Linked DNA regions of Homo sapiens. The protein of the gene in region 1 interacts with the protein of each later gene in a pairwise test. Each region holds a gene or a part of one and is shown in the gene's direction. Other genes may lie near its edges.

Region 1 (7,388 bases):
GGAGATCAAGACCATCCTGGCTAACACGGTGAAACCCCGTCTCTACTAAAAATACAAAAAATCAGCCGGGCGTGGTGGCCCGCACCTGTAGTCCCAGCTACTCGGGAGGCTGAGGCGGGAGAATGGCGTGAACCTGAGAGGCAGAGGTTGCAGTGAGCTGAGATCGTGCCACTGCACTCCAGCCTGGACGACAGAGAGAAACTCCGTCTCAAAAAATAAAAATAAAATAAAAAGTAATGGCTGGGCGCAGTGGCTCATGCCTGTAACCCCAGCGGTTTGGGAAGCCGAGGCGGACGGCTCTTTTGAGGTCAGGAGTTCGAGACCAGCCCGGCCAACATGGCGAAACCCCGTCTCTACTAAAAATACATAAATTAGCTGAGCGTGGTGGCGGTAGTCCCAGTTACTCAGGAGGCTGAGGCCGGAGAATTGTTTGAACCTGAGAGGCAGAGGCTGCAGTGAGCCGAGATCACGCCATTGTACTCCAGCCTGAGCACAGAGCGAGACTCCATCTAAAAAAAAATAAAAATAAAACTATTCTGCATAAGCAGTGTCCAAATCATAACAAAAATCAAATGAAAAGTAAACAAGATGTAACCTTATATCCATTGGACCGGAGAAGATGAGGAAGCTGGACGATGCTGAGTACAGGAGGGGGAGGGAGCTCACGCACACTGTGGGGTGGACACGGCAGTGGCCCCAGGGGACCAGGTGCAGTCCTGGAGTCCAGGTAAGTGTGGACGGAACCTCCGACCTGGCAAGGCTGCTGCCGGTTTTAGAGGATGTATATGCAGTGGAGGCAATGGAGTGTCTGTCCCGGGAGGGCAGGGAAGGACGGAGAATCCACACGGCAGCTCATGGAGTGTCCATCCCCGGGCAGGAAGGGAGGGAGCCGTGAATGTGTACAGCCCACGTAGCCACCGCTGCCTAACAAACTACCCCAACTCAGGGGCTTAAATACTCAAGACGCCAGGCATGGTGGTTCACACCTGGAATCCCAGCACTTCGGAAGGCTGAGGCGGGGGGATCACTTGAGCCCAGGAGTTTGAGACCAGCCTGGGCAACATAGTAAGGCCCCCCTCTCTACTAAAAAGTTAAAAATTAGGCTGGGCACCGTGGCTCACGCCTGCAATCCCAGCACTGTGGGAGGCCGAGGTAGGTGGATCACCTGAGGTCAGGAGTTTGAGACCAGCCTGGCCAACATAGTGAAGCCCTGTCTCTGCTGAAAATACAAAAAGTACAAAAATCAGCCAGATGGCTCCTCAGCATCATGGGAGGCTGTTTCTAGGTGGTAACCCAATGACCAGGGGTTGGATTCATCCGAAGAGCTGTCTGCTGTCTATGGTTGGTGCCAGCTGTCGGCTGGGACCTCATTCAGGGCTGTCGGAACGACGACGTGAGGACTGGATGTGTTGCCAGGGGCTGCCAAAACGACCACAAAATGGGTGGCTTACAGCAACAGAAATGTTCTCTCTCACCATCTTGCAGGCCTGAAGTCAAAATCAAGCTGTCAGCAGGGCTGACTCCCTCTGGAGGCTTTAGGGTAGAATTCTGTTTGCCTCCAGTTTCTGGTGGCTCTAACACAGCTGTGTTACCTTCGCTCACGGCACCCTCGTTCCACTCTGCCTCCGTCTTTAAGCGGTCTTCTCTCCTGTGCGTTCATATCTAAGTTTCTCTCTCCTCATAAGGACAGCAGTCATACTGGATTGAGGGCCCATGCCAACCCAGAACAACCTCATCCTTTTTTTTTTTTTTTTTTTGAGATAGAGTCTTGCTCTGTGGCCCAGGCTGGAGTGCAGTGGCGCGATCCCGGCTCACTGCAAGCTCCGCCTCCTGGGTTGACGCCATTCTCCTGCCTCAGTCTCCCGAGTAGCTGGGACTACAGATGCCCGCCACCACGCCCAGCTAATTTTTTGTATTTTTTAGTAGAGATGGGGTTTCAGTGTGTTAGCCAGGATGGTCTCGATCTCCTGAGTTCGTGATCCACCTGCCTCGGTCTTCCAGAGTGCTGGGATTACAGGCGTGAGCCACTGCGCTCGGCCCAGAACAAACTCATCTTGATTTTTGTCTGGAAAAACTATTTCCAAAAAAGTCCCAAGAATAGGCTGCAGGTGAATGTGAGTCGCAGGTCGAAGTTGCAGGCCAAAAGCTCTGCACACGGCCGTGGCCTTCTCACTCTAGTGGCTGGGTTCTGAGGGTGTGTTAGTCCGTCCCCATGCTGCTGTAAATAGCTGCCTGAGGCTGGATAATTTATAAAGAAAAGACGTTTAATTGACTCACAGTTCCGCATGGCTGGGGAAGGCCTCAGCAAACTCACAATCATGGCAGAAGGCGTCTCCTCACAGGGCGACAGGAGCGAGAATGAGCACTGAACAAAGGGGAGAACCCCTTATAAAACCATCGGATCTCGTGGAATTCACTATCACGAGAACAGCATGGAGGAAGCTGCCCCCAAGATTTAATTATCTCCACCTGGTCCTGCTCCAGACCTGTGGGATTACAATTCAAGATGAGATTTTGGGTGTGGATACAGAACCAAACCATGTCAGAGGCCAAGGATCTCAAGACAAGGCCAGGGTATGGCATGTTTATGATTTAGCCTTGGAATTCATTCCACATCAGTTCTATTCCATGGGTTGAGGCAGGTGCAAAAACCCACCCAGGCCTATGGGAGGAGAGCTAGGCCCACTGCTGGATGGATGGACTGGTGTTGCCAAATTCAGTGAGGACAAAGGCAGAACAGTTACCTCCACCCTCCTCCGCATCAGAAGAAGAATAAAGATGAGACTTACGAAGTTAGCTGTCCTGAGGACTGGTGTGGACCCATGGTGGCACTGGGCACCAAGAGTGAGTTCAGTAAACAGTAAGTAAAAGAGCTCCCTGTCCAGAGGTGGCCACCTAGATAACTCAGGGAGATCCACCGACTGCATCACGATTTTTTTTTCCAGACATTCTCGCTCTGTCACCCAGGCTGGAGTGCAGTGGCACGATCTTAGCTCACTGCAACCGCAACCTCTGCCTCCCAGGTTCAAGTAATTCTCCTGCCTCAGCCTCCCAAGTAGCTGGGCTTACAGACATGTGCCACCACGCCCGGCTAACTTTCGTATTTTTAATAGAGACGGGGTTTCACCATGTTGGCCAGGCTGGTCTTGAACTCCTGACTTCAGGTGATCCGCCCGCCTCGGCCTCTCAAAGTGCTGGGATTACAGGCGTGAGCCACCGCACCCGGTCATGATCACTATTTCTAAGATGCCAGCAGGGAACTTCCAGGTAAAAAATCTAAGAAAAAGGGGGGACCTCGCCGCCCAGGCCCAGGGAAAGTTTCAACAAACTTGGGCCTTGGTTTTGGTGGCCTGGAGAGATGAGGGACACAGACGTGAAGTAGCAAAGCCTGCCCAAAGCGGGGGTGTGGGGTAGGGGTGGGTTTCGGCTGGGACCTCCAAGGGTCTCCCTCATCCTCCTCTACTTCTGGGCAATGCGAGAAAGTGGCTGTAGCACAGAACAGAGGAACCCGAGCGAAGAAAACGTCCCCGGGAAGTCGTGGCCCAGATTTAGCCTGGGTGGATCCGCAGCCCAGGTCAGCTTTTAGCCTAGAGAGGGGGGCGGCTTCGCCCTGCCTCAGAGACCCGCCCAGACGATGCTCTCAAGGGCTGCAGATGGCAAGTGCAGGAGGCCGGGAAGCGGAGCCAGCATAAACAGAATCTGAGGTCCCCGCATCCACCTGAGGCTGCTGTTTCAGACGAGGCTGAAAGGCTTGTCCTTCCGCCCACCTTCCGTGCCGCGGGCCCCTCCCTCAAGGGGATGGCCCCGCCCCACAGGGGAGGCCCGCCCCCGGATCCGGCCAATCCCCGCCAGGTAATGCAGGTGGCCCCGCCCCGCAGGAAAGGCTCTTCCCAGGATCCAGCCAATCCCCGCCAGGTAATGCCGGTGGCCCCACCCCCCAGGGGACGAGCCCGCGCACCTGCTTCCCCGCGGCCGGGTCGCCTGGGGCTGGGTCCCTGTCTCGTGGGGAGGAGCGGCCCAGGCACAACGTTCCCTGAGCGCCTGCCATGAGCCCGCAGCCCTCGGCCCAGCGGCGTCGTGAACGATACCGGTCCCGCGAGGAGACGGGCGACGCGGTGACAGGAGGCTCTCGGGGTGCCTCGCGCAGGGGCTCGGCCGGGCTGACACCTCCTCCTCCCCTTTCACCAGGCCCCGCCCCTCCTAAATTATTCGGAGGCGGGGCCTGCGCCAAGCCCCGCCCCGCCCCCAGCGTCACGGCCGCGGACCCCGGGCGGAGCCGACTCCCGGCGGAAGCGCGCGGCGCGCGGGGAGGCCCGAACTGATCCGCGGCGGCCGGAGACCGCTGGGGACAGACAGGTAGCGCCGTCACCCGCGGGATCCGCAGCTCCATCTGCCGGGCGAAGGGGCTCTGGTCGGGAGAGGGCTCAGCGGGCGGAAGCGCGTCTCTAGAGAAGGGTGCGGTCGATAACCGGGGGCGCCCCTGGAAGGCCGAGGTACCCAGGCTGGAGGGAGGGGCTGGAGGTGCGGGGGCGCTCAACTGGAGGGGCCTGGATCGCTGGGTGGGCGGGCAGCTGATGGGGCCGAGGTCTCCAGCGTAGGGGGTGCCGAAGATACCGGGGGCGCCCAGCCGCTGGGGGCGGGGTCTCCAGGCTCGAGGGGTCCTGGGGACGCTGGGTGAGGGTTCGGGGAGAGCGCGGCGGGCTGGGCGCGGCCTTAGGTCCCTGACCCCCCCGACCCCCGTCCGCCGCAGGATGGGCAGCAGCTCGCTGTCCGAGGACTACCGCCAGTGCCTGGAGCGCGAGCTGCGACGGGGCCGCGCGGGCGTGTGCGGGGACCCCTCGCTGCGCGCGGTGCTCTGGCAGATCCTGGTGGAGGACTTCGACCTGCACGGGGCGCTGCAGGACGACGCGCTGGCTCTGCTCACCGACGGGCTGTGGGGCCGCGCCGACCTGGCGCCCGCGCTACGCGGCCTGGCTCGCGCCTTCGAGCTTCTGGAGCTCGCCGCGGTGCACCTGTACCTGCTGCCCTGGAGGAAGGAGTTCACCACCATCAAGGTAGGCGCCAGGCCAGGAGGAGCGCGCCCCTCGTCCTGGCCTGCGGGTCGCGGGGCCGCCGACCATGGGGGACCACGCCTTTCGAGAGAGAGGGGCTTCAAGTGTCCTCAGTGCCTGGTGGGCTCCTCAAGGCTCCGAGCGCTGAGGGGTCGTGGGCGTGTGGGGGCACCCACTCCTAGGGCTGAGAACATGGGGTGGGCGAGGGCAGGCTTGGGTGCTGCCTACGGGGTCCTGCCCTGAGAGCTTGCGTCAGTGTCTTCCCTAAGAGGCCTCGCGGCCCCAGTTGCCATGGAAATCTTAGGACGGGGGCACAGAAGGGACTTGAGTTCCCATGGTCATCCTAATTCCTCCAGGTTATGGGCCAATCCCATTTGCAGAGGAGGCCGCCGAGGCTGGGAGGACTGCAGATGGGTGCATCCCTGTGAAGTCTCAGGGCTGGGCTCAGACCTAGTGAACTCCACGGCCTGGGGCGGGAGGCTGTGCCCAGGGCTGGCCTGGCCTCTCCAGGTGAGCTCCTGGCGGCAGGAGGGGGCAGGGCCGCCGGGAGCTCTGAGCTAATTCGGAAGAGTAGGAAGCCGATGACGTCACTGGGCACGTGGGCGAGCTACGCCTCCGCCGGTTGCCATGGCAGCGGCAGTCTCTCCGCGGCTCCCCGGGGACACCTGCTGGTCGGAGGCGCCAGGACTTTCATTCATGAGAGAGGACGGACAGGCCCGCCCTTGAGGCCTCCCAGGGGGCGGGGCGGGGGAATAACCGGCTTCAGTGCCGGACAGCCCTGGTTTGGACTTAGTTCTGCTGCTTCCTGGCCGCGAGGACTTGGCCAAATTAGCTAATCTCTGTCAGCCCCTTTCCTCCTGAGACAGCGACACGGGAACAGTCCAGTTCATGGGGCCAGAGGAATGAATCAAAGCCCCGAGCTCAGTGCTGCAGGCACTGGGCGCTCCACACGTGGGCCGTGTCCAGGCATTAGATGCTAGGAGTCCCGGAGTTAGGGAATTTGAGAGTCAGGAGACGCTCGCAGTGATTGTCCTGAGCTCCTTTAGTTCTTCACCTAAGTGTAGGCTAGAAAGCACTCAGCCAGGCCGGGCGCGGTGGCTCACGCCTGTAATCCCAGCTCTTTGGGAGGCCGAGGTGGGCAGATCACGAGGTCAGGAGATTGACACCAGCCTAACCAACATGGTGAAACCCCGTCTCTATTAAAAAATACAAAAATGAGCTGGGTGTGGTGGCACGCGCCTGTAATCCCAGCTACTCAGGAGGCTGAGGGAGGAGAATCACTTGAACCTGGGAGGTGGAGGTTGTAGTGAGCAGAGATCGAGCCACTGCACTCCATCCTGGTGACAGAGTGAGACTCCGTCTCAAAAAAAAAAAAAAAAGAGCACTCACCCTTCTACCGTCCCACGGCTGTCAGCCCAGTGCATGGACAGCCTCTGGAGAGCGCTGAAAACAGACGTGTCACCCCCATGGTGGAATACTACACAGCAGGGGGAATGAACGTTACAGCTTCTGTCCTTGTCTGCAAGACTGTAGTGGAAAAAAACAAAGTTCAGAACAACACGTTTAAGAGGCTACCTGTCTAGCTTTGGTTAGAGACCTTACAAAGAGGTGAAAAAAAAGGGGGGACTACCTCATACGAGGAGCAAACGAAATCTGTATTTGGGTTTGCAAAACAAACACCTGGGCAAGTACATTCAAAACTAATTAGATGAGGCCATCTCCAGGGGTGAAGGGAGCGGTGGGACAGAAGACAGTGGAATTTCTCAGTACAGGGGCTCTTCATTTTGTTCTGATTTGTGAGCTAGGTTAATGTATTCATTGTTTTTTCCATTAAATTTAAGAAATTCGGCCAGGTGCGGTGGCTCACACCTGTAATCCCAGCACTTCGGGAGGCCAAGGTGGGTGGATCATGAGGTCAAGGGATCAAGACCTTCCTGGTCAACATGGTGAAACCCCGTCTCTACTAAATATACAAAAATTAGTGGGGCGTGGTGGTGCGCACCTGTAATCCCAGCTACTCAGGAGGCTGAGGCAGGAAGATCGCTTGAACCCGGGAGGAGGAGGTTGTAGTGAGCCGAGATCGTGCCACTGTACTCCAGACAGAGCGAGACTCTGTCTCAAAAAAGAAAAAAAAAAAAAAATTCTAGGCCGGGCACAGTGGCTCACGCTTGTAATCCCAGCACTTTGGGAGCTCAAGGCAGGCGGATCACTTGAGGTCAGGAGTTTGAGACCAGCATGGCCAACATGGTGAAACCCTGTCTCTACTAAAAATATGAAAATTAGCCGGGTGTGGTGGTGGGCGCCTGTAGTCCCAGCTACCCGGGAGGCTGAGGCAGG
Region 2 (3,531 bases), on another chromosome or scaffold:
ATTTAAACTATTGGTATCATTTTTCTAATGTATAATTTGTATTACTGGGATCAAGTATGTACAGTGGTGATGCTAGTAGAAGTTTAAGCCTTGGAAATACCACTTTCATATTTTCAGATGTCATGGATTTAATGAGTAATTTATGTTTTTAAAATTCAGAATAGTTAATCTCTGATCTAAAACCATCAATCTATGTTTTTTACGGTAATCATGTAAATATTTCAGTAATATAAACTGTTTGAAAAGGCTGCTGCAGGTAAACTCTATACTAGGATCTTGGCCAAATAATTTACAATTCACAGAATATTTTATTTAAGGTGGTGCTTTTTTTTTTTGTCCTTAAAACTTGATTTTTCTTAACTTTATTCATGATGCCAAAGTAAATGAGGAAAAAAACTCAAAACCAGTTGAGTATCATTGCAGACAAAACTACCAGTAGTCCATATTGTTTAATATTAAGTTGAATAAAATAAATTTTATTTCAGTCAGAGCCTAAATCACATTTTGATTGTCTGAATTTTTGATACTATTTTTAAAATCATGCTAGTGGCGGCTGGGCGTGGTAGCTCACGCCTGTAATCCCAGCATTTTGGGAGGCCGAAGTGGGTGGATCACGAGGTCGGGAGTTCGAGACCAGCTTGGCCAAAATGGTGAAACCCCATCTGTACTAAAAACTACAAAAATTAGCTGGGCGCGGTGGCAGGTGCCTGTAATCCCAGCTACCTGGGAGTCTGAGGCAGGAGAATTGCTTGAACCCTGGCGACAGAGGATGCAGTGAGCCAAGATGGTGCCACTGTACTCCAGACTGGGCGACAGAGTGAGACTCTGTCTCAAAAAAAAAAAAAAAATCATGCTAGTGCCAAGAGCTACTAAATTCTTAAAACCGGCCCATTGGACCTGTACAGATAAAAAATAGATTCAGTGCATAATCAAAATATGATAATTTTAAAATCTTAAGTAGAAAAATAAATCTTGATGTTTTAAATTCTTACGAGGATTCAATAGTTAATATTGATGATCTCCCGGCTGGGTGCAGTGGCTCACGCCTGTAATCCCAGCAGTTCTGGAGGCTGAGGTGGGCGAATCACTTCAGGCCAGGAGTTCAAGACCAGTCTGGGCAACATGGTGAAACCTCGTTTCTACTAAAAATACAAAAATTAGCCGGGCGTGGTTGCACACACTTGTAATCCCAGCTACTCAGGAGGCTAAGAATCGCATGAGCCTAGGAGGCAGAGGTTGCAGAGTGCCAAGGGCTCACCACTGCATTCCAGCCTGCCCAACAGAGTGAGACACTGTTTCTGAAAAAAAAAAATATATATATATATATATATATGTGTGTATATATATATGTATATATATATGACTTCCTATTAAAAACTTTATCCCAGTCGGGGGCAGTGGCTCACGCCTGTAATCCCAACACTTTGGGAGGCTGAGGCAGGTGGATCACCTGAAGTCCGGAGTTTGAGACCAGCCTGGCCAACATGGTGAAACCCCATCTCTACTAAAAATACAAAACTTAAGCCAGGTATGGTGGCGGGCACCTGTAATCCCAGTTACTTGGGAGGCTGAGGCAGGAGAATCGTTTAAACCCAGGAGGTGGAGGTTGCAGTGAGCTGAGATCGTGCCATTGCACTCTAGCCTGGGCAACAAGAGTAAAACTCCATCTTAAAGGTTTGTTTGTTTTTTTTTAATCCGGAAACGAAGAGGCGTTGGGCCGCTATTTTCTTTTTCTTTCTTTCTTTCTTTCTTTTTTTTTTTTTCTGAGACGGAGTCTAGCTCTGCTGCCCAGGCTGGAGTACAATGACACGATGTTGGCTCACTGCAACCTCCACCTCCTGGGTTCAAGCGATTCTCCTGCCTCAGCCTCCCAAGTACCTGGGATTACAGGCACCTGCCACTACACCTGGCGAATATTTGTTTTTTTTAGTAGAGACGGGCTTTTACCATGTTAGGCTGGTCTCAAACTCCTGACCTCAGGTGATCTGCCTGCCTTGGCCTCCCAAAGTGCTGGGATTACAGGTGCAGGCCACCACACCCGGCCTTGGGCCACTGTTTTCAAAGTGAATTGTTTGTTGTATCGAGTCCTTAAGTATGGATATATATGTGACCCTAATTAAGAACTACCAGATTGGATCAACTAATCATGTCAGCAATGTAAATAACTTTATTTTTCATATTCAAAATAAAAACTTTCTTTTATTTCTGGCCCCTTTATAACCAGCATCTTTTTGCTTTAAAAAATGACCTGGCTTTGTATTTTTTTAGTCTTAAACATAATAAAAATATTTTTGTTCTAATTTGCTTTCATGAGTGAAGATTATTGACATCGTTGGTAAATTCTAGAATTTTGATTTTGTTTTTTAATTTGAAGAAAATCTTTGCTATTATTATTTTTTCCAAGTGGTCTGGCATTTTAAGAATTAGTGCTAATAACGTAACTTCTAAATTTGTCGTAATTGGCATGTTTAATAGCATATCAAAAAACATTTTAAGCCTGTGGATTCATAGACAAAGCAATGAGAAACATTAGTAAAATATAAATGGATATTCCTGATGCATTTAGGAAGCTCTCAATTGTCTCTTGCATAGTTCAAGGAATGTTTTCTGAATTTTTTTAATGCTTTTTTTTTTTTTGAAAGAGGAAAACATACATTTTTAAATGTGATTATCTAATTTTTACAACACTGGGCTATTAGGAATAACTTTTTAAAAATTACTGTTCTGTATAAATATTTGAAATTCAAGTACAGAAAATATCTGAAACAAAAAGCATTGTTGTTTGGCCATGATACAAGTGCACTGTGGCAGTGCCGCTTGCTCAGGACCCAGCCCTGCAGCCCTTCTGTGTGTGCTCCCTCGTTAAGTTCATTTGCTGTTATTACACACACAGGCCTTCCTGTCTGGTCGTTAGAAAAGCCGGGCTTCCAAAGCACTGTTGAACACAGGATTCTGTTGTTAGTGTGGATGTTCAATGAGTTGTATTTTAAATATCAAAGATTATTAAATAAAGATAATGTTTGCTTTTCTATTTCCTTTTGAATTTGTGTTTATTGTTAATTCATAGCTATTCAAAGTGTGATTAGAGCTGGGCTTGGTGGCTTGCATCTACAGTTCCAGCTACCCAGGAGGCAGAAGCAGGAGGATTGCTTGAGCCTAGGAGTTCGAGGCTGCAGTGAGCTATGATCCTGCCACTGAATTCTAGCCTGGGCGACAAAACAGGAAAAAAGTATGGATGGAGGACCAGCAGCATCTGTATCACCTGTGAGTCTTTCAGAAATGCAGAGTTTCAGGCTACACTCGGACCTACTGAATCAGAACTTGCACTTTTTACAAGATCCCCAGGACACTAAAGTATAGAGTGAAGCTTGAGAAGCGCTGTTGTGTGGATTGTTCTTAACCAGCTGCAGTGATGAATATGAATAACGCAGGCCAGCACAGTCCATTGATATTCTATTCCAGCTTACTGCCTGCCAAAAGGTCCATTATTACTGGATCCTCAGTCTTTTCCAAGAGAAGCTAAGAATTCCA
Region 3 (7,554 bases), on another chromosome or scaffold:
CCACACTCCAGCCTGGGTGACAGAGAGACTCAAAAAAAAAGTTTACCACGCAGACTGGATCAAAAAAGCCTGTCTTCTTTTGGTTTTCCTTCCATCTAACTGTATCCCTCCTTGGTTCTAGAAGCACACATCTGACCACTTGTCTTTCCTCTTTCTCTGTCATTCCTGTTTTCCACACTCCTTCACAGCTGCTTCCTTTGCAAATAGCCAAAAGTGAAGTCATTCCAGAACTCCTAAAAGTTTCTTCTTAAATGTCATATGATTAAAGACATTTCAGACTTTTGCACAAGTTCAGTGTTCATCAATTATTCACATTTTTTTTTTTTTTTTTTAGAGACACAGTCTCACTCTGTCATCCAGCCTGGAGTGCAGTGGCATGAGATCATGACCCACTGCAGCCTTGACCTCCTGGGCTCAAGTGATTCCCCCGCTGCGCTGTCAGCCTCTCAAGTAGCTGGGACCCATAGGCGTGTAATTTTTAAAATTTTTTGTAGAGACAGGGTCTTGCCATGTTGTCCAGGCTGGTCCCCAACTCCTGGGCTCAAACAATCCTCCCGCCTCGGCCTCCCAGAGTGTTGGGATGAGACACCCCGCACAGCTCCAATTTTTAAAATTAAATAAAATAACACACTCACCATCATTGTAAGAATCACATGAAATATACCAAAGTGCTTTGTAAACTAACAAAAAATTTATTTCTTGAAATAAATGTGGCCAGGTGCAGTGGCTCACAACTGTAATCCCAGCACTTTGGGAGGCCGAGGTGGGCAGATCACTTGAGGTCAGGAGTTTGAGACCAGTTTGGCCAACATGGTGAAACCCCGTCTCTAATAAAAATACAAAAATTAGTTGGGCATGATGGTGCACGCCTGTAGTCCCAGCTACTCGGGAGACTGAGGTACGAGAATTGCTTGAACCTGGGAGACAGAGGTTGCAGTGAGCCGAGATGGTGCCACTACACGCCAGCCTGGATGACAGAGCAAGACTCTGTCTCAAAACAAAAACAAAAACAAAACAAAGAAAATAAACGTGATTTTTTTTTTTTTTTTGAGACAAGAGTCTCGCTCTGTCACCCAGGCTGGAGTGTAGTGGTGCGATCTCAGCTCACTTCAGCCTCCGCCTCCCAGGTTCAAGCAATTCCCCTGCTTCAGCCTCCCGAGTAATTGGGACTACAGGTGCAAGCCACCATGCCCAGCTAATTTTTGTATTTTTAGTAGAGACCGGGTTTCACCATGTTGGCCAGGATGGTCTCGATCTCTTGACCTCGTGATCTGCCCACCTTGGCCTCCCAAAGTGCTGGGATTACAGGCACGCACCACCGCGCCTGGCCAGAAACGCGATTTTAATATCTAAATTGAAACCTTAAAAACACTGATGTATTTAGGCCAGGTGCTGTGGCTCACACCTGTAATCCCAGCACTGTGGGAGGCCGAGGTGGGCAGATCACTTGAGGTCAGGAGTTTGAGACTAGCCTGGCCAACATGGTGAAAGCTCATCTCTACTAAAAATACAAAAATTAGCCAGGCATGATGGCAGGTGCCTGCAATCCCAGCTACTCTAGAGGCTGAGGTGGGAGAATTGCTTGAACCTGGGAGGCGGAGGTTGCAATGAGCTGAGATTGCACCATTGCACTCCAGCCTGGGCAACAGAGCGAGACTCTGTCTCAAAAAAAAAAAAAAAAGAAAAGAAAAGAAATTACTAGAAGAAAACACTGGGGGGGGGGGGGCCAGGCACGGTGGCTCACACCTGTAATCCCAGCACTTTGGGAGGCTGAGGCAAGTGGATCACCTGAGGTTAGGAGTTCGAGACCAGCCTGGGAAACATGGTGAATCCCTGTCTGGACTAAAATACAAAAATTAGACAGGCATGATGGAGGGTGCCTGTAATCCCAGATACTCGGGAGGCTGAGACAGAGAATCGCTTGAACCCAGGAGACAGTGGTTGCAGTGAGCCAAGATTGCGCCACTGCACTCCAGCCTAGGCGGCTGAGCGAGACTCCATCTCAAAAAAAAAAAAAAAAGAAAAGAAAAGAAAGAAAACACTGGGGAAATGTTCCAGGGTATTGATCTGGGCAAAGACCTCAAAGCACAGACAACAAAAGCAAAAACAGACAAATGGAATTACATCAAACTAAAAAGTATATGCACAGCAAAGGAAACAACAAAGCAAAGAGACAACACACAGAATGGGAGAAAATATTTGCAAACTATCCATTTGATGAGGGACTAATGACTAGAATATATTAGGAGCTCAATAGCAAGAAAACAATCAGATTTAAAAGTGGGCAAAAGATCTGAATAGACATTTCTGAAGAGATACAAATGGCCAAGAGATATGAAAAAGGGCTCAATGTCACTAATCAGAGAAATGCAAATAAAGACAGTAAGATATCATCTCATCCCAGTTAAAATGGCCTTTATCAAAAAGGGAATAACATGCTGAGATGGATGTGAAGAAGGAACCTCATACACTGTTGGCGAGCATCTCAATTAGTGCAGCCACTATGGAAAACAATATGGAATCCTCAGAAGATTAACTTCTGAGAAATCATAAGTTCTGGAATCATAACTACCATATGATCCAGCAATCCCACTACCGGTATATACCAAAAAGAAAGGAAGGGCCAGGCACGGTAGCTCACGCCTATAATCCCAGCACTTTGGGAGGCCGAGGCAGGCAGATCACTTGGGGTCAGGAGTTCAAGACCAGCCTGGCCAACATAGTAAAACCCTGTCTCTACTAAAAATACAAAAATTAGCCAGGCATGGTGGCACACACCTGTAGTCTCAGCTACTCGAAAGACTGAGGCACGAGAATTGTTTCAACACAGAGGCAGAGGTTGCAGTGAGCCAAGATGGTGCCACTGCACTTCAGGCTAGGCGACAGAGCAAGATGGAGTCTCAAAAAAAAAAAAAAAGAAAGAAAATCAATATATCAAAGAGATATTTGCACTCCTATGCTTATTGTAGCACTGTTCACAACAGTCAAAATATGGAATCAACCAAAATGTTCATCAATGGATGACTGGATAAATAAAATGTAAATATACACAATGAATACTATTCAGCCATAAAAAATAATAAAATCCTATTTGCAACAACATTGATGGAACTGGAGGTCATTATGTTAAGTGAAACAAGCCAGGCAAAGAAAGACAAGCATCACATGATTTCACTCATAAATGGGAAGTTGAAAAGTGGATATCATGAAGATAAGTTGGTGGTTACCAGAGGCCAGGAAGGGTAGCCAGGAGAAGGGGATGAACAGGGTGATTAATAGGTACAAAAATTGGTAGAAGTGCTGGGCAAGGTGTCAAGAGCCCCAGCATCAGAAAGTGGTCGACTTGCTGGTTGGTAAGAAGAATTTATCGACAACAATATAGGTTTGAAAAAGGAAAGTTTTATTAGAACGCTGCAGAAGAGTGCAGCCTCAGCAAGAGAGAACTGAGCATGCCGCGGTGGATTTTTCATGTCCCTTTTCGAATGTCTCATTTTTTGCAAATTCAATCCAAGTTGCGTTCATTTAGCCAGGATCCTTCTAAGCTCATTCAAGAATTTTGGGCTTTAACTATTTCCTTTGATTTAACCTGGTACCAGGTGCCAACTTTAGATAATAGGGATATCTAATTACTTCTAAATTCCTCAGATAAGGGGCCTGCTTGATGGTCACCAGGTGATCTGTGCTCTCCTTAAGAGGGAATAAGACCTAGCGTTGGCAGAGTTCTGTAGGGTGACTATAGTTAACAGTAATCTGTTGTATATTTTAAAATGTTATTATTGAAGAGAGTAACTGGAATGTTCCCAGTATAAAGACAAATGTTTAAGGTGATAGAGATCTCATTTACCCTGATTTAATCATTACACATTATATGAAAGTATCAAAATACCACATGTACCCAGAAAACACATACGTCTCTTACATATCAATAAATACAACTTGAGATTATGATGTAAATACATCTGACCAACTTGGTACTTATTAGACTTATGTGCGCAGCACTGCTCTAGTCCTGTGGGTGCAGCAGCATCAGGATCGTTAAAGAAAACAAACAATGCTGAGAAAAAAACTCACACCCCTGAGACATCCGGGTGTGAATAAATGCGGCAGAGTCGCCCGAGATCGGGAGACCAGGCGTGGGGGAGAGGTCCGGGAGGCCTGGACCAGAGTCCTAACAGACCAGAGGCGAAACGGGAAGGCGCGCCAGAAAAGGAACAACGCAAAGGGAGCAGGCGTGCACGGAGCGCGAACTAAGGAACCCCTCTGACAACCCCAGTCCCTCGGCAGTTCCAGAGACCGGCTCCTCACGGAGGGTGGCGGTAGAGACTGTTAAGCCCCGCGGGCGCCGGGGCAGGCCGGACTGTGCCATTCGTGGGGGGTACCATGTGGGACCGAGCCGCCTCACCCAGGGCTGTCCAGCTAGAAACTCCCCGGTGCCACCCCCGCCTCAGTCCGAGGTAGACTCGGCCGGACGTGACGCAGCGTGAGGCCAAGGCGGCGTGAGTCTGCGCAGTGTGGGGCTGAGGGAGGCCGGACGGCGCGCGTGCGTGCTGGCGTGCGTTCATTTTCAGCCTGGTGTGGGGTGAGTGGTACCCAACGGGCCGGGGCGCCGCGTCCGCAGGAAGAGGCGCGGGGTGCAGGTCAGCGCCAGCGGGGGCGCGGCGCATGTGTGGGCCGTGGCGCTGGGCGGCGTGGGGGTGCTGGACGGTGTCCCTGTGCTGGACGGTGTCCCGCTGGCTCAGAACCGGCGCGGGGCCTGGGTCGGGGCCGCCCTCGCTTCCGGCCTCCCAGTCGGGCCCTGTCGCTGGCGTTGGATTTGACTGACCGCCAGCGTGGTGGCAACGCTGAAGCGTCCAGAATCTTCTGCCTAACCTCTCGCCGGCATGGAACTGGCTAGCCGTTTTATTAAACTCTGTTTTGCGTGGACGGTAAACCCTCCAGATAATCTGTAAATAGGCTAAAAAAAATTCGGAACCTCGTTGAGCTGCTGTCGTTGGCAGTGAGAACTCCGCGCAGAGAGACAGATGTAGTTGGGTTGACTTCAGTGAGGGGATTTCCATCTTTCTCAGTCATTAAAAAAAGTGTTCAGACATTTAACACTGTTGACCCCCACACACAATTTTTTAGTACAGTTATAACTAAGAAAACAAAAATCCCCTCCAAAAAATTACAAGTTAATTGCGAAAGACCACATTTAAATTTTTGCCCATGAAATTCAGTTTAGTCGTTTCTCTGAAACAGTGCTTCAAAAAAGACTGTTTCCCCGCATTGTGTGAAATGCAGGAGACCCACGTACTTGTATTTTTAAAAAACCCATTTGCAACATACTATTAAAGTTGGATTTAAGAGAACATGGTAGAAGAAAATCTAAGCAATACTACACCTTTTAGCACCCTCATTATGTTTTCATCTCAGAGCAATTAAAACTGCTATACAAATCAACGTTAAGATAACTAAACTGCTGCTTTTTTCGTATTCAGTTGTCTATGAAAACCGTTTCCCTAGGAAGTACTTACTCTGCTTGAAAATGCTCCTAAACTTTAAATTTTGGGGTATCTCAGGGTTGCAATGAAAGTTTTTTGAAATCTTTTTTTTTTTTTTTTTTTAAGGCTTGTAAACATATAACATAAAAATGGCTTCCAAAAGAGCTCTGGTCATCCTGGCTAAAGGAGCAGAGGAAATGGAGACGGTCATCCCTGTAGATGTCATGAGGCGAGCTGGGGTAAGTCCCACATCGATTTTTAGCCATTCCTGTTTTAAATGTTTTTGGATTTTTAAATCATTTTGAATAAAATATTCAAAGTGCTCTATGAAATATTTCAAATATACACAAAATTTCAGAGATGACATAAGAATAAATACCTGTTGATCCACTGCTCACATTTAACGCTTGTTAATGTCTTGCCATATTTCCTTCAGACCCATTTCTCTTTTGTTTTGAGCTCTGTCGTCCAGGCTGGAGTGCGATGGCAGGATCTTGGCTCATTTCGGTCTCTGCCTCCTGGGCCCAAACCATCTTCCCACCTCAGCCTCCCAAATAGCTGAGACTACAGATGCGTGCCACCACACCTGGCTAATTTTTGTATGTTTTGTAGAGACAGGGTTTTGCCATGTTGCCCAGGCTGCTCTCCAACTCCTGAGCTCAAGTTGTCCACCCGCCTCAGGCCTCCCAAAGTGTTAGGACTACAGGCGTGAGCCACTGCACTGTCCTTAGACCCATTTCTTTTTTCTTCTTTTTTTTTTTTTTTGAGATGGTGTCTCTCTGTGTCGCTCAGCCTGGAACGCAGTGGTGTGATCTCTGCTCGCTGCAACCTCTGCCTCCCGGGTTCAAGAGATTCTCCTGCCTCACCCTCAGCTGGGATTACAGGTGTCCGCCACCACGCCCGGCTAATTGTATTTTTAGTACAGATGGGGTTTCACCATGTTGGCCAGGTTGGTCTCGAACTCCTGGCTTCAAGTGACCCGCCCGCCTTAGCCTTTTACAGTGCTGGGATTACAGGCAGGAGCCACCATGCCCGGCCCCTCAGACTCGTTTCTTAAAGAGCAGATGCTTCAAAGAAATACATTTGAAGCCCCCTTTGTAAATTTCTCCAATCCTATGCCCCTTCTTCCTTCCTTAAAGATAAGTGCTATCCTCGCACTCTTGTGTATCCATGCATGTGTGTCTTTTTTTTTTTTTTTAAGACAGAGTCTTGCTCTGTCACCCAGGCTGGAGTGCAGTGGTGTGACCTCAGCTCACTGCAACTTCTGCCTCCTGGGTTCAAGCAGTTCTCTGCCTCAGCCTCCCAAGTAGCTGGGATTACAGGTGCGCACCACCATGCCTGGCTAATTTTTTGTATTTTTAGTAGATGGGGTTTCACCATCTTGGCCAGGCTGGTCTTGAACTCTTGACCTCGTGATCCACCCACCTCGGCCTCCCAAAGTGCTGTGATTACAGATGTGAGCTACTGCACCCGCCCCCACGCATGTCTTTAAGGTAGCATTTGACCGTGGTTCTCATTTTGCGTGTTTATATATTATCTCTCTCTATCTAAAAATAGTGAACAGTGAAGTGAAGTAGAACTAACTCTGTGCCAGGCAGCATTCTAAGTGCCGATAAACCTTACAACAATGTCGTGAGTTAGATATCACCATCCTCATTTTACAGTTGAAGAAACTGAGGCACAGAGACATAAATAATGTACCCACATCACGTAGTAAGTACAAAAGCCAGAACTCAGACCCAGGCAGCCTGGCCCCAGAGTCTGTTAACCCTATACTCCTCTGGTTCTCAGAAATGAAGATACATGTCGATTAAGTTTATCCACTTAAAATTGCTGCTTGGTGTTGCACTGAATGCCACAATCTACCCATTCCTCTAATTACAGCATTACAATTCTGTAATACGTATTCTTGTGTAGGTTTCTTTGTGCAAATGTGAGGAAATTTTTCCAGGTTATATATCTAAAAGTAGAATGACTAGGCCGAAGGATAGCCTGTAGTCAGCATGACTAGGTTTTGCCAAGTTGCTCTCCAGTGTCCCAGTTTGTAGTCCCACCAGCAGTGTAGGAAAATTCC

The links. Proteins that work in one complex are often made in the same cells at the same time.
Region 2: the proteins of SPATA2L (region 1) and ATXN3 interact in binary tests that used the Homo sapiens proteins (3 or more experiments, as listed by UniProt).
Region 3: the proteins of SPATA2L (region 1) and PARK7 interact in binary tests that used the Homo sapiens proteins (3 or more experiments, as listed by UniProt).

Annotation. Positions count from the first base shown.
Region 1 is NC_000016.10:89,698,596-89,705,983, reverse strand, and holds the start of SPATA2L (spermatogenesis-associated protein 2-like protein), read left to right. Parts: upstream 1-4,278; 5' UTR 4,279-4,356; exon of another isoform or gene 4,357-4,493; intron 4,494-4,750; 5' UTR 4,751-4,751; coding exon 4,752-5,054; intron 5,055-7,388.
Region 2 is NC_000014.9:92,058,052-92,061,582, reverse strand, and holds the end of ATXN3 (ataxin-3 reference isoform), read left to right. Parts: 3' UTR 1-3,031; downstream 3,032-3,531. UniProt on the Homo sapiens protein: Deubiquitinating enzyme involved in protein homeostasis maintenance, transcription, cytoskeleton regulation, myogenesis and degradation of misfolded chaperone substrates.
Region 3 is NC_000001.11:7,957,157-7,964,710, forward strand, and holds the start of PARK7 (Parkinson disease protein 7), read left to right. Parts: upstream 1-4,554; 5' UTR 4,555-4,637; exon of another isoform or gene 4,638-4,925; intron 4,926-5,606; 5' UTR 5,607-5,629; coding exon 5,630-5,719; intron 5,720-7,554. UniProt on the Homo sapiens protein: Multifunctional protein with controversial molecular function which plays an important role in cell protection against oxidative stress and cell death acting as oxidative stress sensor and redox-sensitive chaperone and protease.